Linked DNA regions of Homo sapiens: all the other regions are linked to region 1. The links come from fine-mapping of genetic effects on gene expression. A gene starts in region 1. Each other region holds a variant in brackets. All regions are shown on one strand. Distances are between the middles of the regions.

Evidence for each region. PIP is the estimated chance that this variant, and not a neighbour inherited with it, causes the effect.
Region 2: its variant is the best candidate, but not a certain one, in a credible set for the expression of GRM2 in subcutaneous fat (GTEx, PIP 0.50).
Region 3: its variant is the best candidate, but not a certain one, in a credible set for the expression of GRM2 in whole blood (TOPMed, PIP 0.75).

Annotation. Positions count from the first base shown.
Region 1 is chr3:51,699,156-51,710,137 of GRCh38, forward strand. It overlaps GRM2 (glutamate metabotropic receptor 2), which reads left to right and starts at 7,913. Exons shown (of 6, transcript NM_000839.5): 1 at 7,913-8,012; 2 at 9,693-10,278. The coding sequence starts at 9,829. TEX264 (testis expressed 264, ER-phagy receptor) reads left to right here. Exons shown (of 5, transcript NM_015926.6): 4 at 251-419; 5 at 4,569-5,168. The coding sequence ends at 4,861. RefSeq lists an enhancer at 4,785-5,653.
Region 2 is chr3:51,615,440-51,620,439 of GRCh38, forward strand. All of the region lies in intron 3 of RAD54L2 (RAD54 like 2), which reads left to right. Among named protein-coding and RNA genes, the nearest start is that of TEX264, 53 kb to the right of the region's middle. The variant T/C (reference allele first, on the strand shown) is at 2,561.
Region 3 is chr3:51,555,971-51,566,952 of GRCh38, forward strand. The region is part of intron 2 of RAD54L2 (RAD54 like 2); the gene reads left to right. Among named protein-coding and RNA genes, the nearest start is that of RAD54L2, 23 kb to the left of the region's middle. RefSeq lists an enhancer at 1-80. The variant A/G (reference allele first, on the strand shown) is at 6,211.

The sequences.
Region 1 (10,982 bases):
TCTTTTACCACCTGCCCTAGGGTGTCGTCCTGGGTCTTCAGACTATTATTGCACTCTGGACTATGGGGCCCTGCTGTTAGGGTGATCTATGTGTGCCTCCCTCAGCAGGGCTTTGGAACTTGGAAGAGGTTGAGAGGCAGAGCCAGCCCCTGGGACAGAATAGGTAATAGACAGTTCTGGGGGTCACCCAGGGACAAGTGAGTCAGGGGCCCTGTAGGGCTCATTCTACCTTTTGCCACTCTCTGACTAGGAGCGGAAGCTGTGTGCCTATCCTCGGCTGGAGATCTACCAGGAAGACCAGATCCATTTCATGTGCCCACTGGCACGGCAGGGAGACTTCTATGTGCCTGAGATGAAGGAGACAGAGTGGAAATGGCGGGGGCTTGTGGAGGCCATTGACACCCAGGTGGATGGCACAGGTACAGAAGGTGGGGTATGAGGATGGGGCCCTCCTGGAGCTCCTCTCTTCTGGACTCCAGGGGCTTGGTTGAGGAGGCTCCTCCCTCTCTGGGTTGGCACTGTGGGTGTCAGGCTATGCTTGGCAGAGGGAGGAAGGAGACCCACCTACCTGAGGACCCACATGTGGAGTTGCCTGTTCCCAGACACATGGATCTACATAGATGTGGATTCACACACATTACCTCCTGGCAACACAGATACAAAGACCCTGCCTGGATTCCCTCCAGATGCAGCAGGAGTACCCTTGGAAACAAAGATCACAGACAGCTCGATGTTCATGGGAGGGGGCTGAGGCTGCTCAGGAAAGGAGTCCCTTGGGTGGGGCTCAGCAGGAAGTAAGATTGGCATAGATCTGGAAGGTAAGGAGGGGAGCAAAGTGTTCTCTTGTCCCTCAGTACGGGCCCCACCCAGAGCCAGCTGCTTTCTCCCTGCCAGGGAACAACCAGGGAGCATGCAGAGGGGAGCCAGGAGATCAGTCACCTGTGCCTTTCTCCAGGGCCAGCCCACACTCCTGCTGGCAGCCTCAAGGCCCCAGGTCCAGGCTGGAAGGCTGCTTGCCTGCCCACCCCTCTGCAATGATCTGTGACCCCGGGCTGTCTCAGGCACAAGGGGGTCTGCTGGGTTACATCCCAGATGGTCCCAGGGGGCCTTATCCTTGGCCAACCTGGTGGAGTTTGTGACTTCTAGGAGTGGTACAGGGCTGTGGGGAGAGGAACTGTCCCTCCTCTCCTCCTTCTTTAGCAGATGCTCTGCCCATCCAGTCTTCAACAGCCAAGGTCACCCTAGGGAGACGTGTCAGCTAGGGCTGGGTAGGAGGGTATTGGGAGCAGTCTCTACTCCCTAGGGGCCTGTGTCCAACACAGTTAACTTCATCTGCCACTTAATTACCTCCATGGGGTACAGCTCCCTTCTGCCTGGTAGTGCCCGGCAGACACTCTTCAGTGCCCCTACTGTGGGCACAGGACATGGCACAAGGTCAGCAGGCCCAGGCAGCCTCCAGGGCAGGAAGACAGAGTGCCTTCACTTTACTGTGACCTCCCTCTGCTGCCTGCCTCCCCCTCCTTGACCCACCCACCCAGCTTCCTTCCCTCCCAAACACTGCCTGTCAGGGTCATTGAAGGACTGCTTGGCACCCACTACAGCTGGCTGTAGTGGCAGCTCCCACATTCCCCAGCTCCTCAGCCTGTTTTCCTCCCCTCCAGCCCGCCCACCCACTCCCTGGTGTTGGGGCCAAGGGGTCTGCCCACCTCTCACAGGGCCTGTCCTGACACCCCAGCGGGACTCGGTGTTTGCCCACCAGGTGCATGCCACTGACACAGCAGTTGGTGGTGGGTGCATGCAGGATGTCTGACTGCCCAAGGCTTGGCCTGTCCCTGCCCGCCTCCCTGCTGTGGCCCTAGCTTAGGCCGGGAGGTGAAAGGGGGTGATTAGCTGCCTTGTGCCTGTTATTACATTGATGTATTATTTAGCTTCAGAGAGGCGATGAATATTTGATCGTCTTGCACTGGCTGTGGGCAGAGCGAGAGGGAGGGATTTGGGTGAAGGGGGTGGGCTTCAAGTCCCCTGCCCCAGTAGTCGTGGGGATTTAGGTAGGGCCCTGCCTTGCCTGGTATCTTCTGCCCAGGGATGCAGGCATGGGACTCTGGGACCTCCTCCTGTGTAGATCTTGGTGGGGGTATAGGGATGCTACTTCCCCGTATTGCATTCCTTTTTTTTTTTTCTTCTGCGGCAAGGTCTGGCTCTATCGCCCAGGCTGGAGTGGTGCAGTGGCAAGATCTCGGCTCACTGTAACCTTTCCCTCCCAGGCTTAAGCTGTCCTCCCACCTCAGCCTCCTGAGTAGCTGTGACAAGAGGCGTGTACCACCATGCTTGGCTAGTTTTTGTATTTTTTATAGAGATGGTGTTTCGCCATATTGCCCAGGCTGGCCTTGAACTTGTTAGCTCAAGTGATCCTGCCTCAGCCTCCCAAAGTGTTGGGATTCTAGGGATGAGCCACCATGCCCAGCTGGATTCCTTTTTTTTGTTTGTTTGTTTTTAAAGACAGTTTTCCTTTTTTGCCCAGGCTGGAGTGAAATGGCATGATCTTGGCTCACTGCAACCTCCACCTCGTGGGTTCAAGCGATTCTCCTGCCTCAGCTTCCTGAGTAGCTGGGATTACAGGTGCCTGCCACCATGCCCGGCTAATTTTTGTATTTTTAGTAGAGATGGGGTTTTGCCATGTTGGCCAGGCTGGTCTGGAACTCCTGACCTCATGTGATCCACCTGCCTCAGCTTCCCAAAGTGCTGGGATTACAGGCGTGAGCCACCGTGCCTGGCCTCCAGCTGAATTCCTTTGCTTGAAGTGTATATATGTCTCCAGGGGCTGTCTTCATTTCAGCAGGCTGTCCTGGCCTGAAGGAGGCACCCCTAGGCTCCTTCCTCTGAACATTCCTAGCCTAGGAGCTGGGTGGTAGGAGGTAGCATGCTGGGAAGCAGGCACATTCCTATACCTGGGGTCCCAAGAGAGCCATTGGGTGGGTGGGCAGACAGAACATACAGTTTAATAGGGCCAGGGAGAAACTGTCTCCCTCCTTTGCTCTTTTCAGGCCTGCGGTCCCTGGGGCACTGATCATTATTTAAGGAGCAGTGAGGGCCTGGCATCCTGTCCCCTGGTCAGAAGAAACTACCCAAAACTTAAAGCTCCCCCAGCTCCCTGACCACCTCATTCACAGGCTTCTGTCCTGGGAGCCACACCTGGGGCCTCAGCAAGAGGAGGGCCCTGGGCCAGCAGCCTGGGCTTCTAGGGCTCACCTCACCTCTGCCAGTAGCGCCCAGAGGGCATATTCTGGGGGCTGAGTGGGTGGTGGGGGTAGGGAGAGACCCCAAATTCCCCCCTCTCCTAATTCTCCCACCCCCAACCTAGGCCCCATTTGAGGCTCAAGGAAAGCCCCAGGCTGAGTCCAGGCGCCAAGCAGACCCCAGCTGCACCTGGCTTGGCTCCAACACCATGGAGACAGTGGCTGGGGAAGCTGGCTAACCCCTCACCTTCTGTGATGTTTGACAGCTGACCCTCTCCCCATCATACAGGAAGGGTAGCAGATCCACTTTCTCCCAGTCTGGATTCCTGCACACAGCGAGCCTGAGCCATGTGTTCCTCCTTGCCACCCCAGCCTGCATTCAGTGCCTCTGATCCAGGGAGATGAACCCAGGGGTTGCTCCTGGACAGGGCAGATGAAGGGGCTGCTTGCTTGGAGGATGTATTGGGGGTGGAAGGAGCAGGTTAGAAGGAGTTTGGGCCATCAACCTGGCTCAGCACTGGTTTGGGGCACCCCAACCACCAGCAGAGTGCTCTCATCATCCCCTTTTGCTATCTTGTGGCTCAGGAAGCACCAGTCATTGGGGGTGGGGTGGGTAAGGGTTTCTCAGGGTCGACCCAGGCATAGGGAGAGAAAACCCTTAACATGTTTCATCCCAGCACCCTCCTCCTTGCAGCTGGTTGAGTATTTCTCAGGCCTTCTCCATCCTCCTCGTACTTCAGCTCCCTCCTCAACTGGGACTTGGTGTGTACCAGAGGCAGGGGCCTGCTGACTCCCTGGATGCTGCTCCTGGGAGCCCTGCACGGGGGAGGGCTGCAGAGGGGCCTCCTGCTGCATTCTGCAGTCCTCGTGCCCTGTGGGTGATGTTCTGTAGCTGGCCCTGGACACATCTCTTTCCAAGCTTGAAGTGGGGGTGGGGGAAGGTGGAGAGGACACTACTTGTGTCTCTTTGTTCTACCTCAGCTCCTCACCTCAGGGCTGAGTGGCCCTTAATAAATGTGGGGGGAGGGCAGCAGGCTTTGTGGAAGTGCAGGGAGCTGAGGCTAATTTAGAGTGGGGAGAAGAGTGCACAGCTGCCTCCTCCCACCCTCTCTCCCTCCCTCCCTCCTTCCCTCCCTCCCTTCCTCCCAGCTCTTTCCCTCTGCCCTGTCTGTGCAGCCCCAGTCAGGGTAGAGGGCAGAGGGCAGCTGGAGCAAGCCCCCTGAGCCCGGGAGGCTGCATTATTCATGAGTGCACTGCGTGCTGAGTTGCCTCTCCCTGGAGGAGGGGGTGGGGTGGTCCTAGCTAACCTGTGCTCCCTTTTCCTGGTCATAGGAGCTGACACAATGAGTGACACGAGTTCTGTAAGCTTGGAAGTGAGCCCTGGCAGCCGGGAGACTTCAGCTGCCACACTGTCACCTGGGGCGAGCAGCCGTGGCTGGGATGACGGTGACACCCGCAGCGAGCACAGCTACAGCGAGTCAGGTGCCAGCGGCTCCTCTTTTGAGGAGCTGGACTTGGAGGGCGAGGGGCCCTTAGGGGAGTCACGGCTGGACCCTGGGACTGAGCCCCTGGGGACTACCAAGTGGCTCTGGGAGCCCACTGCCCCTGAGAAGGGCAAGGAGTAACCCATGGCCTGCACCCTCCTGCAGTGCAGTTGCTGAGGAACTGAGCAGACTCTCCAGCAGACTCTCCAGCCCTCTTCCTCCTTCCTCTGGGGGAGGAGGGGTTCCTGAGGGACCTGACTTCCCCTGCTCCAGGCCTCTTGCTAAGCCTTCTCCTCACTGCCCTTTAGGCTCCCAGGGCCAGAGGAGCCAGGGACTATTTTCTGCACCAGCCCCCAGGGCTGCCACCCCTGTTGTGTCTTTTTTTCAGACTCACAGTGGAGCTTCCAGGACCCAGAATAAAGCCAATGATTTACTTGTTTCACCTGGATTTGGGTTGTGTATTTGTTTGTTCTGCCTTGGTTGGGGGCGGTGGGGGGATGGCTGTACAGATAGGCTGGGAGTGGGAAGGAGCCTCCCCTCCCCAGGACAAAGAATGGAAGGAACATGGCAGGTACCCTGGGGTTGGGGGAGGAGGGGAGTTAGAGATCCTCCACGTCCTGCTCTGTGACCCCAGTGGCCAGCTGCCCCTCCATTGCAGCTGCCAGAGAGCAAGCAGAGCCTGGCTTGGGTGAGAGCTGAGTATGGGGTGCCCTTCAGGGCTCAGGAATGGGGAGCTCACAGCCTGTCTTCATCTGCCTCCAAGGGATGCCTTTGTGTCTGTGACTAGTGTGCCTGCACGCTGGTACTTCCCCAGTAGGCGAGGCTCCCCCACTGTGCCTGCCAGTGGCTGTGTACCTGTGTGTGTGCATGTGCACCCACGCTCATGCATTTGGCTCTGTGTAACCACGGATGGATGGGGCTGCTTGGGTAAAGCTGTGCCCAGGTGAGCATCAGGGTATGATTGTACCTGAGCATGGCTGAGTCTGTGTGGATGGCTGTGTGCCTGTGTGAGTGTGTGTGTGTGTGTGTGTGTGTGTGTGTATTGCTGTGCTTTGTGTCTGTGTATGGTTGTATTATAGGAGCATGTGAGGCTGGCTAACAGCATCTCTATGGGGGCTTTGTTCATGTACAACTGTGTGTGGCTGTGTCTGTACAACTGTGTGTATGGTGATGTTCATGACGTTCATGTATAAAGCTATGTGTTTTGCTATGTGTCCACATATAAAAACACACATTTGCTATGTGTCCTGCAGCCGTATATCCATAATTATGGCCATGTATGTGTGGACATGTCTTGGTGGACAGCTATTTGTGGCATGTCCTTGTGTGAGCAGCTGTATATATGTGGCTGTGTCCACATGTGCAGCCGTGTGTAGACATGGTCACATGTTCTTAGGGGCAGGGGTGTGCCCATGTGTATTATGGCTGTCTACAAGTATAGCTGTGTGTGGTTGCATGTTTATGTGTACTATGCATGTGGCCATGTCCACATTTACAACTGTGTAAGGCTAAGTGTATGTCCTCATCCGTGTGCACACAGCTGGGAGTGGTGGCTGCCTAGCTGTGTGTAACTGTGTGTCCATGTGCTGCGACTGTGCAGCTTGTTTGCTGCAGGCCACATCATGGGCTTTTCTGGCTGATGCTGTACACAGCCATATCTGTGTTTACAGCCCTGTGCCTTTTGTGAGGCTGACTTGTTGAGCAGGTTGGGAGTGTGGCTAGAAGGAGTGTGTGACTCCTCACCTCAGCACCCTCCTGCTGTCAACCCCTCTGCTCCAGAGGCCTGGCCCATTGCTCACCTACCCCAGGGAGCTGTTGCTCTGAGGCAGCCAGAGAGGGTGAGAGCAGCCGGTGGCAGAGTTGGAGGTGGAAGACAGCATGTCTGTCTCCCACTGCCACCTTGTCTCCTGTTAGTGATGGGGCTTGTGTTTGTTTGGGTTTTATGTGTCTGTTTCGTTTCAAAGCTGTATTCTTTCCACAGCAGCAGGACATCAGGTTTCTGTGTCCAGGGAAAAAGCTCGTCCTTGGTGATCACCCCCGCACCCCTACGGACTGCCACACGCACATGTGGGTGTGTGTGCCTGAGGGGTCTGGGCTTGGCATGTTCATTAGCATGTATCTGAGCTGGCCTTGCTTCCACTGACACCTGTGGAAGAAAGGGCAGTGTCGGGAATGTGTGTAGGGATGCCATGCCCCTTGGCACTTGTTAGTGTGTGCACATGTTAGGGGCAGATAGCACAGGCTCTCTAATCCCCATTCCTTCAGCACAGTCTGGCACTACAGCTTATCCACTACCCTCTACCCAGGGGCGTCCTTCCCCATCCTGCTGTGGGAGGGAAGAGTCAAGAGAATCTTCTCAGAGCTGTCCTCCCTCTGCTTGGGCTCCAGCTCTCACTCCCTCCTACGCAGCAGCCAGTTCCAGAAGCCTTTCCCTAGGCCCCTCCCCTCCCAGATGCCCCTGCCATCCCTAACACTCCCTCAGGGTTGACCCTAGTACTTGGTTCTGCAGCCCTTCCTGCAGGTTGCTCTCTCCTTGCTTAAATACCCTTTTTACATGGGAGTGGGTGGCAGGTTTAAAGGGCATCTGCAGGAAGGAAGGGGAGGCCCCATTCTCCTCTGACCTCTCCCTTCCCCCAATCTTTTCCTCATAGTGACTCTGGCTCCAGGTCTCAAAAGTGGCAGAGGACACATGCCTCCAACTCAGGCCTGGGATGTGGACCCAGCTGAAATCGCTGAGTGGGGAGAATAGACTCCACCCGTCTCCCACGCGCCCCTTTACCTATCCCCCAGAGGCACCCCTTGCACTAAGGCCAGCTCCTCCACTCTGCAGTAGCACTATGGGCACCTGTCGGGGCGCAGTGACCTTCCCCACCCCGTGCCCCGTGGCATCCCCCCGCCCCCCACCTATGCTCTCTAGGTGGTAGTCTGACTATGGGGCGGAGTGGGCCACGAAGCACCCGCTCCAGCGCAGAGCGAGAGCGCTCGGGGATTCAGCACCACGAGGCGGACAGCTCCAGGCCCTGAGGTCCCCAGAAAAGCTGGAGCGCGGAGTGTCCAGAGGAGGCGGAGGCTGGGTTGGGAGCAGGAGACCTGGCGTCTGGAGGAACGGAGGAGGGGCTGGGGGCGGGCCGGGGCCGGGGGCGGGGCGGGGCGGGCCGCGATTGAAAGCGGCGGGGCGAGCGGGCGGGCGGAGAGCGCAGAGCCAGCGAGCCAGCGAGCGAGCGAGCGGGAGCCGGAGCCTCGCGCCCCCCGCTCCACTCCGATTCTCTCCGCGCCAGAGCCAGCGCGCCAGGTAGGGTGAGCCGGTGGTGGTGGTGCCGCTGCCGCTGCCGACCTTTTTGGCCCTTACCTCACGTCCCAGGGTCCTGCGGGCCCTCAAGTTGTGGGGCGCCCGCGCTGCTGTGTCCAGACAGCGTTCCCTGAGAGCTCCGGGAAGCGGGAAGACAGCCCCGGGCGTCCCGCCTTTCTTCTCCAGAAAACGCACGCCCCACATCGCACTCCCCCGTTCCTCCTGCTCCAGCGTCCTCTGGTCCTTCTTTCTGTCTGTGCCTCCGTCTTTGTCTCAACCTCTCAGGCTTGCTCGCTCCCTGCCCAGATTTTGTGGCCCAGGCTCCTGGCTGTCTGACTCCGGGTTTCTGTCCCCTTCCTGCCTCTGAGCTTCCGTCTGGGCCTCCCCTCTGGGAGACTTGCGACTTGACCAGTTTTGGCTTCAGCCCCCATCTGGGTCCCTGTCTCCATCTGTGCTGGTCTTCCTCCCTGCTTCTCCCTCGCTTGCCTGGGTAAGCTGCTGCTTTCCTGATCCCCAGAGGAGCCCAGTGCCCCTGCCCTGGGGAGCTGAGGGGGCAAAATGAAGAGGCTCAGCCTCCGTGGCCAGCACATGGGGTCCTTGAGTTAGTTGCTGCCCTTCTTCAAACTCAGTTTCCTTTCCTGTTCTGAGGAAAGAGGTATGTCCCTCTCCCAGCCTTTCCAAGCCTGTGTGATTGTGAGAGCCTTTGTGGGGTGTGTGTTTGGGAAGGCAACTGGGGTACAAATGATTGGACGCAGTGGGGAAGAGACAGGGAGGGGGTCTCTGAGGGCCATGGCTAGGGTGGGCAGGGCCCTGAAGCTGAGGATGGGGAGATTGGAAATGGTGACTTTCTCTGCTGGGTCGGGAGTGAAGAGAAAACAGAGGCACAAAATCTCAAGCAGTGTTCTACACAGAGCTAGAGAGTCCCGCACTCTCACCCTCAGCACTGTTTGGAGACTCTAGCCCCCAACCCTGACACACACATACGTGAACATCTGCTTGCCCTGTTGACTTAGGACCTTGAGCCACTTGGGTACCCTCCCTGAGGCCAGCCATTCCACCTTGCTGTCTCATTCCCAGGGCTTAGTGTCTCTATTCCTTCCTCAGTCAGCAAACTGTGGGGATGGCTTTTTAAGAACCAAAGGTTAGAACCCTTGGGTGTTCACATGGGCTCCAGTCTCCCCACGGGTTGGAGACTGTCCCTTAGAGATGCTTCCCTTCCTCTTCCCTGGTGGGTCCTGAGACAGCAGTTCCTTCTCTCTGGAAATCCAAGGCTCAGGATGGGGACCTCTGAGTTTGTGACTGTGACATAGTCTGTTCCAAAGGTATTGACCTCGGGGTCCTGGGAGGTTTGTGCTGTTCTTGGACACCCTTTGAATTACAGAGGGGTCAGCATTGGCTGGGGTCTCCTGTCCTCTGCCTGGGACTTCACTGCTTGCATCTCTCCCCACTGCTGAGTTTGGTAGGGGAATATGGCCCATCTCTCACCAAGCTGAGGCCAGGGCTGAGAGACAGGTCCAGGGGAGTCCCAGGAGCTTCTCAACCTACTTAATGACACCATCCTGTCCCTCCCTGGCTTTTGAGTACCTAGGAAAGGGGCTCGTGGGGAGGCAGAGTCAGAAGGGGCAGCTGCTCTCAGGTTCCACTTTTCCTGGTCTGTTTTTCTGTCTTTCTATCTCTCTGCAGGAGCTGGGTCCCTTCGCATCTCTCTTCTTGTCTGTCCTTTCCTGGTCCCTGTTTCCTCCTCTCTTTGCCTTCGCTGCTTCTAATCTCATCCCCTGGAGACCCAGGTCTGCGGGACCCATCCATCCCCTTTGGGGCCATGGGATCGCTGCTTGCGCTCCTGGCACTGCTGCTGCTGTGGGGTGCTGTGGCTGAGGGCCCAGCCAAGAAGGTGCTGACCCTGGAGGGAGACTTGGTGCTGGGTGGGCTGTTCCCAGTGCACCAGAAGGGCGGCCCAGCAGAGGACTGTGGTCCTGTCAATGAGCACCGTGGCATCCAGCGCCTGGAGGCCATGCTTTTTGCACTGGACCGCATCAACCGTGACCCGCACCTGCTGCCTGGCGTGCGCCTGGGTGCACACATCCTCGACAGTTGCTCCAAGGACACACATGCGCTGGAGCAGGCACTGGACTTTGTGCGTGCCTCACTCAGCCGTGGTGCTGATGGCTCACGCCACATCTGCCCCGACGGCTCTTATGCGACCCATGGTGATGCTCCCACTGCCATCACTGGTGTTATTGGCGGTTCCTACAGTGATGTCTCCATCCAGGTACGTGGAAGCCACCCAAATGGGGGCTAGGGAGGGAGGCCGGAGGTGGTGACCCAGAATTCCTGCTGAAAAGGGGCTCATGGGCTGCTGTGAATTGGAAGGGAAACTAGAAGCTTCCTTGCAGTAGCTTTTACAGAAGCTAAGAAAGTGCCCTGGTCACATAATGGTGGTCGATTTTTAGAGACTGTGCAAGAGAACATCTTACTCTCATTACTCCCACACACACACACACCCTCACACACACACACACACCCCACACACCCTCACACACACACACAGCCCCCCACACACCCACACACACCCGACACACCCACACACACCCAACACACCCACACACACGCACCCCACACACCCACACACACCCCACACCCACCCCCACACCCACACACACACCCAGACACACACACCCTCACACACACACACACCCTCACCCTTGATGTTAACCCTGAGGGGCTTAATAGTCAGGTCTCCCACTTACTAACTGCATGACCATGGCACGTTATTTCTCTTTTCTGTGTCACAGCTTCTTCCTTATAAAATTGGATTCACAACACTTTTTTTTTTTTTCTTTTTTGAGACAGGATATCGCTCTGTCTCCCAGGCTGGAGTGCAGTGGTGAGATCTCAGCCCACTGCAATCTCTGCCTCCCGGGTTTAAGTGATTCTCCTGCCTCAGCCTCCCAAGTAGCTGGGATTACAGGCGCC
Region 2 (5,000 bases), 87 kb before region 1:
TAAGATCTGATATACCTCAGTGGATTTTTTATTCATACATATTTTACTCTAGCGGCAAAATTTTAAAACTAAGCTCATTTAAAATTAATTATTGAATGTCTGTTATGTGACAGGCATTTTTGTCAGGCATAATGATACAATGGTGAATGAGATGGACATAATCCCTGCCCTCAAGGAGCTGCATTCTAGAAGGGAAGACAGATGACAAATGTTTGATCAAATTACTAAAATTGGTAAGATCTTGGTAAAAATCATGTAGACAATAAAGGAGTGAGCCCCAGCAGTGGGGAGGAAGGGCCTATTTCAGCTAGAGTGGTCAGGAGTCTTCTGAGGAGGCAGCATTTGTACTTGTCTTTTCAAAACAATCAAGTTTTGGTTGTGGTTTTGTTCTTTTTTTAAACTTATGTCTGGTTTATAAAGAATATTACAATGTTTTTATTCTTAACATTATTTTTCATTTCTCTGTTTTATTAATCTGCTTTTTGTTTTCTTCCTACTACTTTTCTGGGGTTTAATTTCTAGTTCTTTCTCTAATTTCTTCTTTTTCAAAAAAAGTTTTTTAAAATTGATGCATAATATACATATTTGGGGGGCACACGTGATAATTTAATACATTCATATTTTTCAAGATCAATTCAGTATAATTGGGATATCCATAACCTTCAATATTTATCTTTTCTTTATGCTAGAAACATTTAAATTATTCCCTTCTAGCTATTTTGAAATAATACAGTAGAGTATTGTATAGTCATCCTACTGATCTATCAAACACTAGGTCTTATTTCTTCTATTATACTGTATATTTATACCCATTAATCAATCTCTCTTCATCCTCTCTTCCCTACCCTTCCAACTTCTGGTATCTCTAATTTCTTGAGAAGAAAATTTATATCATTGATTTTTTACCTTTCATTCTTTTTAAACGTGTTCATTTAAGGCTATGTATTTCCTTCTAAGCATAACTTTAGCAATATCGTAAGTTTTTTTTTAAAAAGTCAGCATTAATGTGTAATTTAAATACAATAAAACTCACATATTTCACATGTACATGACTGTTGGTTGTATACATCCAGGTAATAATCAAGGTAAAGAAAATATCCACTGTCAGCTGGGCGTGGTGGCTCATGCCTGTAATCCCAGCACTTTGGGAGGCTGAGGTGGATGGATCACCTGAGGTGAGGAGTTTGAGACCAGCCTGGCCAACATGGTGAAACCCCGTCTCTACTAAAAATAGAAAAATTAGCTGGGCTTGGTGGTAGGCGCCTGTAATCCCAGCCACTTGGGAGGCTGAGGCAGGAAAATTGCTTGAACCCAGGAGGCGGAGGTTGCAGTGAATGGGGATCATGCCACTGTATTCCAGCCTGAGTGACAGAGTGAGACTCTGTCTCAAAAGAAAAGAAAAGAAAAGAAAAGAAAATATCCATGGTCCCAGAAATTCCTCTTTTTGGGCTTTAATTTTCCAGGCAACCAATGAACTGATTTCTGTCATTATAGATTAGCTTTGCCTATTCTAGAATTTGATGTAAATGAAATTATACAATACATATTCTTTTGTGTATGGCCTCTTTTGCTCAGCATAATGTCTGTGAGATTCATCTGTGTTGTTGCACGTGTCCATAGTTTGTTCCTTTTTATTGTTTAGTATTCCAATTGTATGAGTGTACTAAAACTTGTTTATCCATTCATCTGTTGATGGACACTTGACTCTTATGAATAAAGCTGCTCTGAACGTTCATCTAGAGATGGTTTGCTGTTTTTTTCAAAATTATAGATATGTTTTCGTTTCTCTTAGATAAAATACCAAGAAGTGAATCACTGGGTTATATAATAGATGTGTTTAACTTGATAAGAAACTGCCAAAGTGTTTCCCAAAGTGATTATACCACTCTTTACTCCTGCCAGCAGTGTATGAGAGTTCCAGGTGCCCCACATCTTCGTTAGCACTTGTTATTAGTTTTAGTTATTCTAGTGAGTGTCAAATGTCATCTCATATTTTAAATTTGCATTTTTCTAATGATATTGAGCATCTTTTCACATGTTCATTGGCTATTTGTATGTCTCTTTTTGTAAAGTATCTGTTTCTTCTCATTTGCCCCTTTTTATTGGATTCTGTGTAGTCTTACTGAATTGCAAGAGTTTTAGAAATATATTCTAGGCCAGGTATGGTGACTCATGTCTGTAACCCCAGAGATTTGGGAGGCTGAGGCGGGAGGATTACTTGAGGCTAGGAGTTTAAGATCAGCCTGGGCAACATAGTGAGACCCTGTCTCTACAAAAAATTTAAAAATTAGCCAGGTGTGGTAGTGCTTGCCTGTAGTCCCAGCTGCTCAGGAGAACTACTTGACAGGAGGATCACTTGAACCTGGGAGTTTCAGGCTGCAGTGAGTGAGCCATGATTGTGCCACAGCACTTCAACTCTCGTGACAGAGCAAAATTCTGTCTCTAAAATATAAATACACACACCACATTTTAAATATATAATAAATAATGTATATTTAATACATACATGTTTCTAGATATGTAAGTCTTTTTTTTTTGAGACGGAGTCTCACTCTGTCGC[T/C]CAGGCTGGAGTGCAGTGGTGCTATCTCGCCTCATTACAACCTCCGCTTCCTGGGTTCAAGCAATTCTCTTGCCTCATCCTCCGGAGTAGCTGGGACTACAGGCACGTGCCACCATGCCCGGCTAATATTTTGTATTTTTTTTTTTTTTTTTTTTAAGTGGAGACAGGGTTTCACCATGTTAGTAGCCAGGATGGTCTCGCTCTCCTGACCTCGTGATCTGCCTGCCTTGGCCTCCCGAAGTGCTGGGATTACAGGCGTGAGTCACTGCACCAGATTGTGGCCAGATTGTGACTTGATTTTCCTTTTTCTGTGGGTGTCTTTTGAGGAGCAGAGGTTTTAAATTTTGATGAAGTACATTTTACCAGTTTTTTTCTTTGTGATTTGAGCTTTTTGTGTCCTGCTTTATTAAATCTTTATTACAAAATTAGCCAGATGTGATGGTGTGTGTCTGTGGTCCAGCTACTCAGGGGCCTGAGGTGGGAGGATTGGTTGCTTGAATCCTGGAGGTGGTGGCTGCAGTGAGCATTGATTGTGCCACCGTACCCCCGACTGGGTGACAGAGCAAGACTCTGTCTGAAAAAATAAAGAAAGAAGGACAGAGAAACTATACTTAAGAAGTGTATCCAAGGAACTACAGTGGAGAGCCACATCCATATGTCAATTTGAGTTAGACAATAAGATCTTGGACTTTGAGCTGACGCTGTAATGACTTGGGGGGGTTCTTCAGAGAGGGAAGTATATTTTGCATATGACAAGAATGTGAGTTACTGTGGCCAGAGAGTGGAATATGGCAGACTTTTTTCCATAGATAAATAAAACAATATCTTCTATCCCACATGGTTTTCTAGAGTTGACCTTGATACTCCTCCAATTGAGAGGTGGATTCTAATTTCTTTCCCTTGAATGTGGGTGGGAAATTGCTGAAGCTGCTGTGGGATAATATTCTAAGATTTTTCTAAGCTCTGTTTAATGGAGAAGGTCTGCTAGGTATGCCTTTAAGATCTTCAGGAGGCCTCTTGTCTGTTGGAAAAGGTCTGTGAGGCACTATCTTTTTTGTTTGTTTGTTTGTTTGTTTGAGACAGAGTCTTGCTCTGTTGCCCAGGCTGGAGTGCAGTGGCGTGATCTCAGCTCACTGCAACCTCTGCCTCCCGGGTTCAAGCAATTCTCCTGCCTCAGCCTCCTGAGTAGCTGGGATTATAGGCACCCGCCACCACGCGTGGCTAATTTTTTGTATTTTTAGTAGAGGTGGGGTTTCACCATGTTGGTCAGGCCGGTCTCGAACTCCTGACCTCGTGATCCGTCTGCCTTGGCCTCCCAAAGTGCTGGGATTATAGGCGTGAGCCACCACGCCTGGTCTAGGCACTATCTTAAATATTTTTGAGACTGTAACAAAAGGTCTCATAGGCCTGCTCTGGATTCAATCTCTGTTTTTCATATTATTGCAGGTGACAGAGTTGCTAAAGTTTCTGACACAGTGCAATGTGTCTCTCTTTTTTTTTTTTTTCCAGTTTCCTATAACATTTTCCTTTATACTTTACCAACAATGTCCTTGATGACCTGTAGGCTTTTACTACCGGTCTCCTCATGGCCTTTCCAGTTTTCCATTCACCACATTATCTCAAATACAGTGTCATGGTTTAATTTTTTTGTGTGTGGCAGGACCGATATACCAAATTTCTATTTCAATTACTACTGGTGTGTCATAAATCACCCTGAAACTTAGTGGCTTTAAACAATATTATTTCTCTTGGCTTCTGAAGGTAAGCAATTTAGGAAGGTCCTGGCTGGCAGTCTAACAGCTTAGTCTATCTACATTGCTCTTGACTGAATTTTCTGGGCTATGGATCATATTTTCCTGTTTCTTTGCATATCTAGTGAATTTTGATTAAACAATGCATATCTCTGTGCATTATGTATTGTAGAGACTGCATTCTGCTGTTGTCCTCTGTATTTTTGTAAACTAAGAGTGAGATCTTAAGGTGTGTTCAGGCTCCGGTGCAGAGTTTTTGGCACACAGACATCGTAGCTTGTAGTGTGTGCATCCAGTTGCATCACATCAGGAGAAATATGGTGAGACTTTGAGTCTTTTTTTTTCATTTTTTTGTTTTAATAGACAGGGTCTTGCTCTGTTGCCCAGACTAGAGTGTGGTGCAGTGGTATAACCTTGGCTCCCTGTAGCCTCAACTTCCTGGGCTCAAGCGGTTCTCCCACCTCAGCCTCCAGGGTTGCTACAGGCCTGCACCACTATGCTCAGCTAATTTTTTTTTTTTTTTTTTTTGTAGAGATGGCAGTTTCTCTATGTTGCCCAGTCTGGTCTTGAACTCCTGGGGTCAAGTGATCCTCCCACCTTAGCCTCCCAGAATGCTGGGATTACAGGCGTGATCCACTGGGCCTGGTCCTACTGGTCTTTTTTTTTTTTTTTTTTTTTTTTAACTTTTA
Region 3 (10,982 bases), 140 kb before region 1:
CTCCCAGAAGAGGTGGTCTTCATTGTTTTTTCAATCCAACCCGTTCCAATTGAATTTTATCTATTCCTGTTTCTTCTGTAACCTTGATTTACCTATTACATCCTTTGTAAGGTCCTCCTATAGTCTTTCCTAGCCTTGATCCCCTCCCCTTTTGTTTTTTCCTACATAAACGATAGGACCACAGTAACTGCTTAGCTCTGTGCCTCTCATGGTAGCCTAGCCTTCTTCTTTCTGTCCTCCTTTGGTTTATTTTTTATCATCCTCTCATTAAGTTTTACTGCCATTTCCTTACCAATTGCCTTTTTTTGTTTTGTTTTGTTTTTGAGACAGGGTTTTGCTCTTTCACCCAGGCTGTAGTGCAGTGGTGCAATCTGCTCCCTATGGCCTCAACCTCCCTGGCCCATGCTATCCTCTTAGGCGGGTGCCACCATGGCTGGCTAGATTTTACTTTTTATTTTGTAGAGACAGGGTATCCCTGTGTTGCCCAGGCTGGTCTCAAACTCCTGTCCTCAAGTGATCCTCCTGCCTTGGCCACCCATAGTGCTGGGATTACAGGTGTGGGCCACCTCACTCAGTGCCAACCAGATGCTTTATCTCTCTTTTATCTATCTCTCTTTTTTTTTGAGACAGAGTTTCGCTCTTGTTGCCCAGGCTAGAGTGCAGTGGCATGATCTCGGCTCATTGCAACCTCCGCCTCCCGGGTTCAAGCGATTCTTCTGCCTCAGCCTCCAGAGTAGCTGGGATTACAGCCATGCGCCACCATGCCCGGCTAATTTTGTATTTTTAGTATAGACGGGGTTTCTCCATTTTGGTCAGGCTGTTGTCAAACTCCTGACCAAAGGTGATCCGCCCGCCTCTGCCTCCCAAAGTGCTGGGATTACAGGCGTGAGCCACTGCACCCGGCCCTATATATCTCTTAATCCTTTGTTGTCTGGCTTGGTCCTGCATTCCTCCTGAGCAATATCTCTGAGGTGAGTTCCTAGTTGCCTGGACCAAAGATTCTTTTCCTGATGTTTATTCTCCCTTGTTCTGACTAACTCCCCCTTTCCCATCATCCTTGCTGGGAGGGATGTTGCACATGCTTGGCATACACGTACAACTGTGGAGAGTATAGCATCATGAAGCATCATGTACCTGTCACCCAATTTCAACAATTATCAATACTTCTCCATCTTTTTCAATATATTCCCTATTTTTTGTTGTTGTTGGCTTTTTTTTTTTTTTTTTTTTTTTTTTTGAGACAGGGTCTCACTCTGTTGCCCAGGCTGGCATGCAGTGGCATGGCTCACTGTAGCCTCGACTTCCCAGCTCAAAGTATTCTCCAACCTCAGCCTCCTGAGTAGCTGAGACTACAAGTGCACACTGCCATGCCCAGCTAATTTTTAAATTTATGTAGAGATGGGGTCTCACCACATTGCCCAGGCTGGTCTCAAAACTCTTGGGCTCAAGCTATCCTCCTGCCTCAGCCTCCCAAAGTGCTGGGATTAGAGGTGTGAGCCACTGCACCAGGCTGTTGTTGGCATATTTTAAAGCTAGATCTAGACATTGACACTGAGTGTTTAATTAATAAGAACATTCTTATGTTCTTATTAATTACACGCCTGTAATCTCAACACTTTGGGAGGCTGAGGTGGGTGGATCACGAGGTCAGGAGTTTGAGACCAGCCTGATCAACGTGGTGAAACCCTGTCTCTATTAAATATACAAAAATTAGCCAGGCATGGTGGCGGGCGCCTGTAATGCTAGCTACTTGGAAGGCTGAGGCAGGAGAATCGCTTGAAACCAGAAAGTGGAGGTTGCAGTGAGCCGAGATTGCGCCACTGCACTTCAGCCTGGGTAACAAGAGGGAAACTCCATCTCAAAAAAAAAAAAAAAAAAAAAAAAGAACATTCTATTTTATTTTTTTGAGACAAGGTCTCGCTCTGTTGCAGTGGCACAATCTCTGCTCATTGCAACCTTCACCTCCCAAGGCTCAAGTGATCCTCTCACCTCAGCCCCAGGAGTAGATGAAACCACAGGTGTGTGCCATCATGCCCAGCTAATTTTTGTATATTTTGTAGAGAGAGGGTTTTACCGTGTTGCCCAGGCTGGTCTCAAATTTATAAGCTCAACCAATCTGCCCACCTCAGCTTCCCAAAGGGCTGGGATTACAGGTGTGAGCCACCGCCCCTGGCCGATTTGTTTATGAATCTTATCAAGTCTGGCTTGTAAGGCTCTGTTTAGGGCAAAGTAGAATTTACTGATTGACCGAATCCATGCTCTCAGCCCAAATTTCTCCACCAGAGACGTGTGACCTGCCCTTATCTGTCAGTTGGCTCCTGTTTTAAATGTTTTAAAATTTTTCTTAGATTAAATGTTTAAAAAATTTCTTAGATGTTTAGAGGAAGACTATTTTTTTTCTAGTCAAAATCATGTGCCATAGCAGCATCTTAAATATCAATTTCATTTCAAAGGGACTTTGGCAAGCCTTTCTCCTTTGAAGGTCCACTTCTCTCTCTCTCTCTCTCTTTTTTGAGACAGGGTCTTGCTTGCTGTGTTGCTCAGGCTAGAGTGCAGTGGCGTGATTATGGTTCACTGCAGCCTCAACTGCCTGGGTGCAAGTGATTCCGCCCACCTTAGCCTCCCAAGTAGCTGGGACCACAGACATGTACCACTATGCCTGGCTAATTCTTTAATTATTGTAGAGATGGGGGTCTTGCTATGTTACCCAGGCTGGTCTTGAACTCCTGGGCTCAAGCAATCCTCCCATCTCTGCCTCCCAAAGTGCTGGGATTACAAGCATGAGGCACCATGCTGGCACTTCTCTTACTGTCCCATAAGTGGAATAGCAAAGAATGCCTTGTGAAGTATATAGTCAATACATTCCTTAATAGAAATCAACTGTGTAATAGTAGCAGCATCAACAAATAGCCTATTTATTTTTGAGACGGAGTCTCACTCTTGCCCAGGCTGGAGTGCAGTGGCATGATCTTGGCTTACTGCATTCTCTGCCTCCCACGTTTAAGCAATTCTACTGCCTTAACCTCCCTAGTAGCTGGGATTACAGGCGTATACCACCACACCTGGCAAATTTTTTGTATTTTTAGTAGAGAGGGGGTTTCACCATGTTGCCCAGGCTGGTCTCAAACTCCTGACCTCAGATGATCCACCATCCTCGGCCTCCCAAAGTGCTGGGATTACAGGCGTGTATTAATGGCGTGAACCACTGCGCCTGGCCGACAATAGCCCACTGAAATGGAAAGGGTTACTCTTTCACATTTAATGTGTCTAAATTTTATCTCCACTGATATTCTCCCCAGGTTATACTCTCCAGCTTCCTAACCTCTTATAAGGAATCTTGAATCTTAATGAGGGTAGAACATTTGGCTTTTTGTGCTTGCATAAATCTTTCATGTTACATAAATAACATGGAGAATATTTATGTCCCAGATATCTTAAATTTAGTAAGTTTGGTGTCTTACACTTGGTAACTCGGTGCCTCCCCTGAGTGCTTCAGATCCAAACTGATTCATCCCACTGCCTCACTTGATTCCACTTGATTATGGATGGGTCTTTGCATCTGGGTTATTCTAGCTTCCTCAGAGCTCTTCCCTTCCCTACTGTTTTATCCACTCATTGTAGATTTGGTTTATCCAGTTTTGTCTGTGAGGAATGCATGTTTTCTGGGCTTGGCGCCAAATTTTTACTTAACTTTTGGGTAAAACTGTATCCCAGCTGCTGTTCTAGAGATGAGCTCTCTGAAACCAGTTTTATTTGTTTAGGAACCAGATAGTACATATTATGGTGGAAGATGTTATACCCATATTGAAAATAAAAACAATCTTGCTCCAAGTGGAACACCGGTTGTCTGTATGAGAGCCAACGTACTGATAAGTACTGGGCAGTTTCAGCTACAGGAGCTTCCAAATGGGCTACAGATATGATAAGGCTATGTAGTATTTTTGTAAGAGATACTGTTTTGTATGTTTCACATCTATGTAGGATTTGTTTGTGATGTGCTGCTGTTGACTGATTGCCATGTTGTATGCTGTGTGAATCCTCACAGCACAGAGCTGTGGATGCCATTATGCCAGTTGTACAGATGAGAAACTAAGTGATTTGCTCCAGTTAAGTGGTGCTGTTAAACCAGGTATCTGACACCAAAGAGCTCCCACCCCATGATATACCTATGGCCTCTTCAGCAGTGTTGATAGTAAAAGCTGAAATATGTGTGGCATCTGGTTTTCAACCTGGGCTTGTGTTTGAGGAGGAGGTCACAATAGCACTCTAGGCCCTGGTTAGGGAAACCTGGAAAAGAAACCTCATGTGTCTTTTACTCTTTTATTGAGGTTTGAAGAGCAATACTTTACTAGCATAATTTATTTTACCTTCCAAATCATTTTCTTTTTTTTCTTTTTTTTTTTTTTTGAGATGGAGTCTCGCTCTGTCACCTAGGCTGGAGTGCAGTGGTGCAGTCTCTGCTCACTACAAGCTCCGCCTCCTGGGATCACGCCATTCTCCTTCCTCAGCCTCCTGTAGTAGCTAGGACTACAGGTGCCCACCACCACGCCTGGCTAATTTTTTATATTTTTTAGTAGAGACAGGGTTTCACTGTGTTAGCCAGGCTGCGATCTCCTGACCTCATGATCCACCTGCCTCTGCCTCCCAAAGTGCTGGGATTACAGGTGTGAGCCACCGTGCCTGGCCCCCCAAATAGTTTTCAAATCTGGCCTTTCCTCTGGCTTTTTAACTGGCCTTCTATTTTCAATCCCCTTTTATTCCGCCTTCCACATTTCTTCCAGCAAATTTTTTTTCTAGGCCATGTTTTGAATACAATGTGCTAAATACTGAGCCAGGTATCTTTATTGTAGAATTTATATTCCTTCACCACTTGATCCTCTTAAGAAAATTTGAAGGTAGGGAATATCTTCATTTTACAAGTGAGGAAACAAACTGTGGTCCAAAGAATTTAAGTAGCTTGCTGAAGCTCATGTAGCAAAATGAGCTGGTACTTGTTTTCAGTTTGAAACTGTTCTTTTAAGCATTAACATTCTATGCCACAGAGTGACCTTTATAAAAGACGGATCTGCTTATACCATTCTGCTCTTGCTTGGAGGCTAAAATCCTATCTCCTTAGCAGGTCTCCAGGTTGCCCTATGTTCTTGGCCCTGTTACTTCTCCAGGCTCATTTTCTACTCTTCTCCCATACTTCCTACTTTATGCTTTAGTAATACAGACTGCTTGGATTTCCTTGAAAACATTCTGCTTTCTTGTCTCTGAATCATTGTTCATGAAATTCCCTATCTTTTTTTAGGTGAGACAGAGTTGCTCTGTTACCCAGGCTGGAGTGCAGAAATGTGATCTCGGTTCATTGCAACCTCCACCTCCTGGGTTCAAGTGATTCTCCTGCCTCAGCCTCCCAAGTAGCTGGGATAACAGGCATGTGCCGCCATGCCCGGCTAATTTTTGTATTTTTAGTAGAGACGGGTTTCACCATGGTGGCCAGGCTGCTCTTGAACTCCTGACCTCAGGTGATCTGCCCGCCTCTGCCTCCCAAAGTGCTGGGATTATAGGCGTGAGCCACCACGCCCGGCCGAAATTCCCTTTTATCTTTTTCTTTTTTTTTTTTTGAAACAGAGTCTCACTCTTTTGCCCACCCTGGAGTGCAGTGTTGCAATCACGGCTCACTGCAGCCTCAACCTCCCAGGCTCAAGCAATCCTCCCACCTCAGCCTCCTGAGGAGTTGGGACCACAGGAGCATGCCACCATTCCTGGCTAATTATTTTATTTTATTTTTTGTTCCCTATGTTGCCCAGACTGGTCTTGAATTCCTATGCTTAAGCAGTCCTTCTGCCTCAGCCTCCCAAAGTGCTGGAATTACAGGTGTGGGTCATCACGCCTGGCTTGGCTGATTTTTTTTATTATTTATTTATTGTTGAGACAAGGTCTCACTTTGTTGCCTAGGCTGGAGTGCAGTGGCGCAATTGTGGCTCACTGCAACTTTGACTTCCTGGGCCCAAGCAATCCCCCCACCTCAGCCTCCCAAGTAACTGGGACTATAGGTGTGTGGCACCCTGCCCAGTTAATTTTTTTTTTTTCCCCCTGAGACCGAGTCTCACTCTGTCGCCCAGGCTGGAGTGCAGTGGTGTGATATTGGCTCACTGCAACCTCTGCCTCCTGGGTTCAAGCGATTATCGTGCCTCAGCCTCCCAAGTAGCTGGGACTACAGGT[A/G]TGAGCCACCACACCCAGCTAATTTTTGTATTTTTATTCTTTAAATTTTTTAAATTTTATTTTTTTTTGAGATGGAGTCTTGCTCTTGTTGCCCAGGCTGGAGTGCAGTGGCGTGATCTCGGCTCACTGCCACCTCCACCTCCTGGGTTCAAGCAATTCTCCCGCCTCAGCCTCCCAAGTAGCTGGGATTACAGGCACCCACCACCATGTCTGGCTAATTTTTGTATATTTAGTAGAGACTAAATAAACATGTTGGCCAGGCTGGTTTTGAACTCTGGACCTCAGGTGATCTGCCCGCCTGGGCCTCTGAAAGTGCTGGGATTATAGGCGTGAGCCACTGTGCCCTGCCATTTTTTGTATTTTTAGTACAGACAGGGTTTCACCATGTTGGCCAGGCTGGTCTTGAACTCCTGACCTCAGGTGAGGAGGTCACCCGCCTTGGCCTCCCAGAGTGCTGGGATTACAGGCATGAGCCACCATGCCTGGCCAGCTAATTTTTTTGTTTGTTTGTTTTGTAGAGATGGGGTCTCCCTATGTTGCCTAGGCTGGTCTCAAAGTCTGTGCTCAGCGATCCTTCTGCCTTGGCTTCCCAAAGTTCTGGGATTACAGGTGTAAGCCACCACACCCAGCTTGATATTTTGTAGAGATGAGGTCTCACTTTGTTGCCCAGGCTGATCTCAAACTCTTGGACTCAAGCCATTCTCCCACCTCAGCTTCCCAAAATGCTGGATTATAGGCATGAGCCACCGAGTCTGGCCAGAAATTTCTTATCTTTGAAGTCATTCCCAGGCAATACCTCTGCCTACCCCATTCCCTGGACATTACCTAACTGTCCAATTCTTTCTTCAAAACTCTCTTTGAGCCTCACTCTTAGTGTTTTTTTGCCTTTCCTGACCTGTCGTGTGTATCTTTGTGTCTCCAGTAGAGAGTAGTTTTTTAATAAGTCTTTGTTGAGCTGAACAGAATTTTTGGAGATGTGACTCTCTAGAATTAGACATTCCAGAGACCACCAAAGCTTCCACATTGGTAAGCTGTTTTGTAAATTTAAAAAACCTGAGTAGGTAAGGGTCAGTTTCTGACCTGAAGGATGTAAACGTATTAACAAGAGCATGTTTAGATTTTGGCACCTGGCTGTATTAGAACTATCTTTGTAGAACCATCTTCTTCCTCCTTTTTAAACTTCTATTACTATTTAATATTCATTTTTGGACTAGTACCCTAGGAGACTGTTCCTTATTTTAATGGCTTTCATTTCATGTGGTGCTTTCCAAGTATTGGTTCTCATCCATCCCATCTACTTTTTCTCTGAAGCTTCATAGAACAGCCTGATCCAAGCCCTGAGAGCCTCTTTATGTCAGGGTGCATAGAATGTGCATTTTAGTAGAAGGACCTCCTGGTTTTTGCCACGGTTCCCTCCCCGGTGTGTTCATCAAAGATCATCAGGGTCAGTAGTTAGAAAGTAATAATACCGTAGCATTTGCTTTATCATTTTGCTGAGAAGGGTTTATTTTTTATTTATTTTTTTCTGTGTTTAAGCATTTGGTAATATATTTAGTGAGTTTTAACTAATTGTTAAGCCTGCAGATAATGAAAGTGTTGACTCTCACTGACACTGGAAAAGGCCCAGGTGTGGGAGGATTAGTTATTAGGTGGTAGACTATCAGCTTGTTCTCCACAGATCAAGATGATCCCTTTTCTTTCACTGAGGTTTCTCTTAAATAATTCCTTAAATGTCCTGTGGTTATTTGTAAATCTTTTTTAAAACATGCCACTTCCTGTCAAGTTTAGAAGGCAGCCCAGAGGGGGACAACTTTTGGAAAGCAAAATTAAATAATTGATTTAGGTATCAATGGGCTTTTCAGGGTTTTGAGTCTGCTGGCTATAGTATTTTAATCCTGATGTTAATGGCTTGTATAGATACAAACCCTTCTCAAGGGTTTGAGGCTGCTCCCAGTGCCTGGTAAAGCCTTAGGAAATCTCAGGCCAGGCTTCTTTTCTATTCTTCTCTTAAATTGCGATGAAGCAGTATGTCTCTGCCTTACACAGGAAAACAGGGAGTGCTTCACTTTGGGCCACAGAATACATTAGATTTGGAGTCCTCCATTAGATGTAACTGAAGATAGGAGGTTTCTTTTCTATTCTTCTCTTAAATTGCAGTGAAGCAATATGTCTCTGCCTTATGCAGGAAAACAGGGAATGCTTCACTCTGGGCCACAGAATACATTAAATTTGGAGTCCTGTAACTGAAGATAGGAGGTTTGTTATCTACATGTAAACATAGAGTCAGGTGTTAGGAATGGAGAGACTGGATAGGAGGAGGTATAAGGGGAGCTCTTGGGGTCTGCCCTTTCCTTTAGCCTTCTAAATAAGGCAAATCAGTATTACTAGGATTCAGCAAAACTTAGACATTGGCTTCTTGGCTTAACTATATAGCCTGTTGAAGACACTGGCTCAGGCCAGGTGCAGTGGCTCACACCTGTAATCCCAGCACTTTGGGAGGCTGAGGTGGGTGGATGGCTTGAGCCCAGGAGTTCAAGACCAGCTTGGGCCAGATGGTGAAACCACATCTCTGTTTATTTTTTTAATTTTCTGTTTATTAAATTTTTAAAATTAAAAAAAGAAAGAAACTGGCTCAAATATAATAGGGGAAAAAGTTAAGAGAGAGCAGTCACAGCTTTGCAGGAGCATGTAGTGCATGTTATTTATATGTTAGGATGCTGTTAAGAAACAGCTTTTCATTTGAAGATCATATGTTTGATTCTTTTCTGTAAGTTCAAATGAGGGAAGCCTTATTTCTTCCCATTTTGTTCATCACACTCCTGAAGTCAGTGTCTAGACCTGAGATTAGAACAAAGAGGCCTTTTCACTCCTGTGCACTACTCACTACTCAGTCTAATTGCTAGTCCTCAGGTGCTTGGGGAAGCCTGCATGAGTTGCTAGAATGTCAGGAACATACCATATAGTTATTGTAGCGATTGTAAATAAGATTTTAAAAAAATTACACTTTCCAGCCTGGGCCACATAGACCCTGTTGCTACAAAAAGTGAAAAAAAGTTAGCTTGGTGTGGTGGCACATGCCTGTAGTCTTAGCTACTGGGTTGGCGTGTGGGGGTGCTGAGATGGAAGAATCGCTTGAGCCTGGGAGGTAGAGGCTGCAGGCTGCAGTGAGCCGAGATCTCACCACTGTACTCCAGCTGCCTGGGTGACAAAATGAGACCTTGTCTTAAAAAATATATATGTGTGTGTGTGTGTTTATATACTTGTAGGTAGTGACTACATAGAAATATAATAGATTTTTATTTATGTATTTTTTGAGATGGCGTCTTACTCTGTCACCCACACTGGAGTGCAGTGGTGCCGTCTCAGCTTATTGCAGCCTCTGCCTCCCCAGTTCAAGCATTTCTGCCTCAGCTTCCTGAGTAGCTAGGATTACAGGTGCGTGCCACCATGCCAGGCTAATTTTTGTATTTTTAGTAGTGATGGGGTTTCACCGTGTTGGCCAGGCTGGTCTTGAACTCCTGACCTCAGGTGATCCGCCCGTCTCGGCCTGCCAAAGTGCTGGGATTACAGGCGTGAGCCACTGTGTTCAGACTAAAATAGATTTTTCTTTATTGATCTTTCATGTAGCCACCTTACTGAGCTCCCCCACCCCCCCCTTTTTTTTTTGAGACGGAGTCTTGCTCTGTCACCCAGGCTGGAGTGCTGTGGCGCGATCTCAGCTCACTGCAAGCTCTGCCTCCCGGGTTCCTCCCATTCTCCTGCCTCAGCCTCCCAAGTAGCTGGGACTACAGGCGCCCGCCACCATGTCTGGCTAATTTTTTGTATTTTTAGTAGAGATGGGGTTTCACCATGTTAGCCAGGATAGTCTCGATCTCCTGACCTCGTGATATGCCCGCCTCGGCCTCCCAAAGTGCTGGGATTATAGGCGTGAGCCACTGCGCCCAGCACTGAGCTCCCTTTATGTCTAGTAGTTTGACTATAGATTTGCTATGTTGAAATAATGTAATCCTTGACTCTTTACAGTTTTCTTTCTTTGTTCCAGTCCCTTTGCCTTTTTTTCGTCTTACTTATTGTAGACTCCAGTTTGATGTTGAGAGAAACACTGACTGACAGCATGCAACCTTATCTTGTTCTGAATTTAAAGGGTACACTCCCAGTCATACTGTGTGGGGCTTGTTTCTAGTAGACTCCCTTTATCCAGTGAAAGTTTTCTTCAAGTTTGCTAAGAGTTTGTTTGCTTTTGTAATCATGAATAGGTTCTGAATTTTATCACAGCCTTTTCTGCGTTTTTTTTTTTTTTTTTTTTTTTTTTTTTTAATGACAGAGTCTCAGTCTGTCACCCAGGATGGAGTGTAGTGGTGCCATCACAGCTCACTGCAGCCTCGAACTCCCAGGCTGAAGCTTTCCTGAATAGCTGTGACTATAGGCATGCACCACCATCTTTTCTGCATTTTTAGAGATAGTTATGTCTGTTGACCCTGTTGGCTCTTTCTTCTGTTTGATTAGTTCCTCGTGCGTTTGTACATTCAGTTTGTGAGTAAGGCTTTATCTGTGGGAATCTCACATGGCCTGGGTTGAGATATGTGCCTGAGCTATTTTGCGTTTGCTTCTAGGCACCTAAGATGTATCATTTGCCTAGGACCACTTTAGTTTTGGTTAATTTCTTGGACAGTGTAGGTAAGTATATATTTAAACCTCAAACTGATTTGAGGGCTGACTGATGATTACAGGCTCCCATTTTGTCTCCATCCTCCAACCTAGGTTGATGCAGC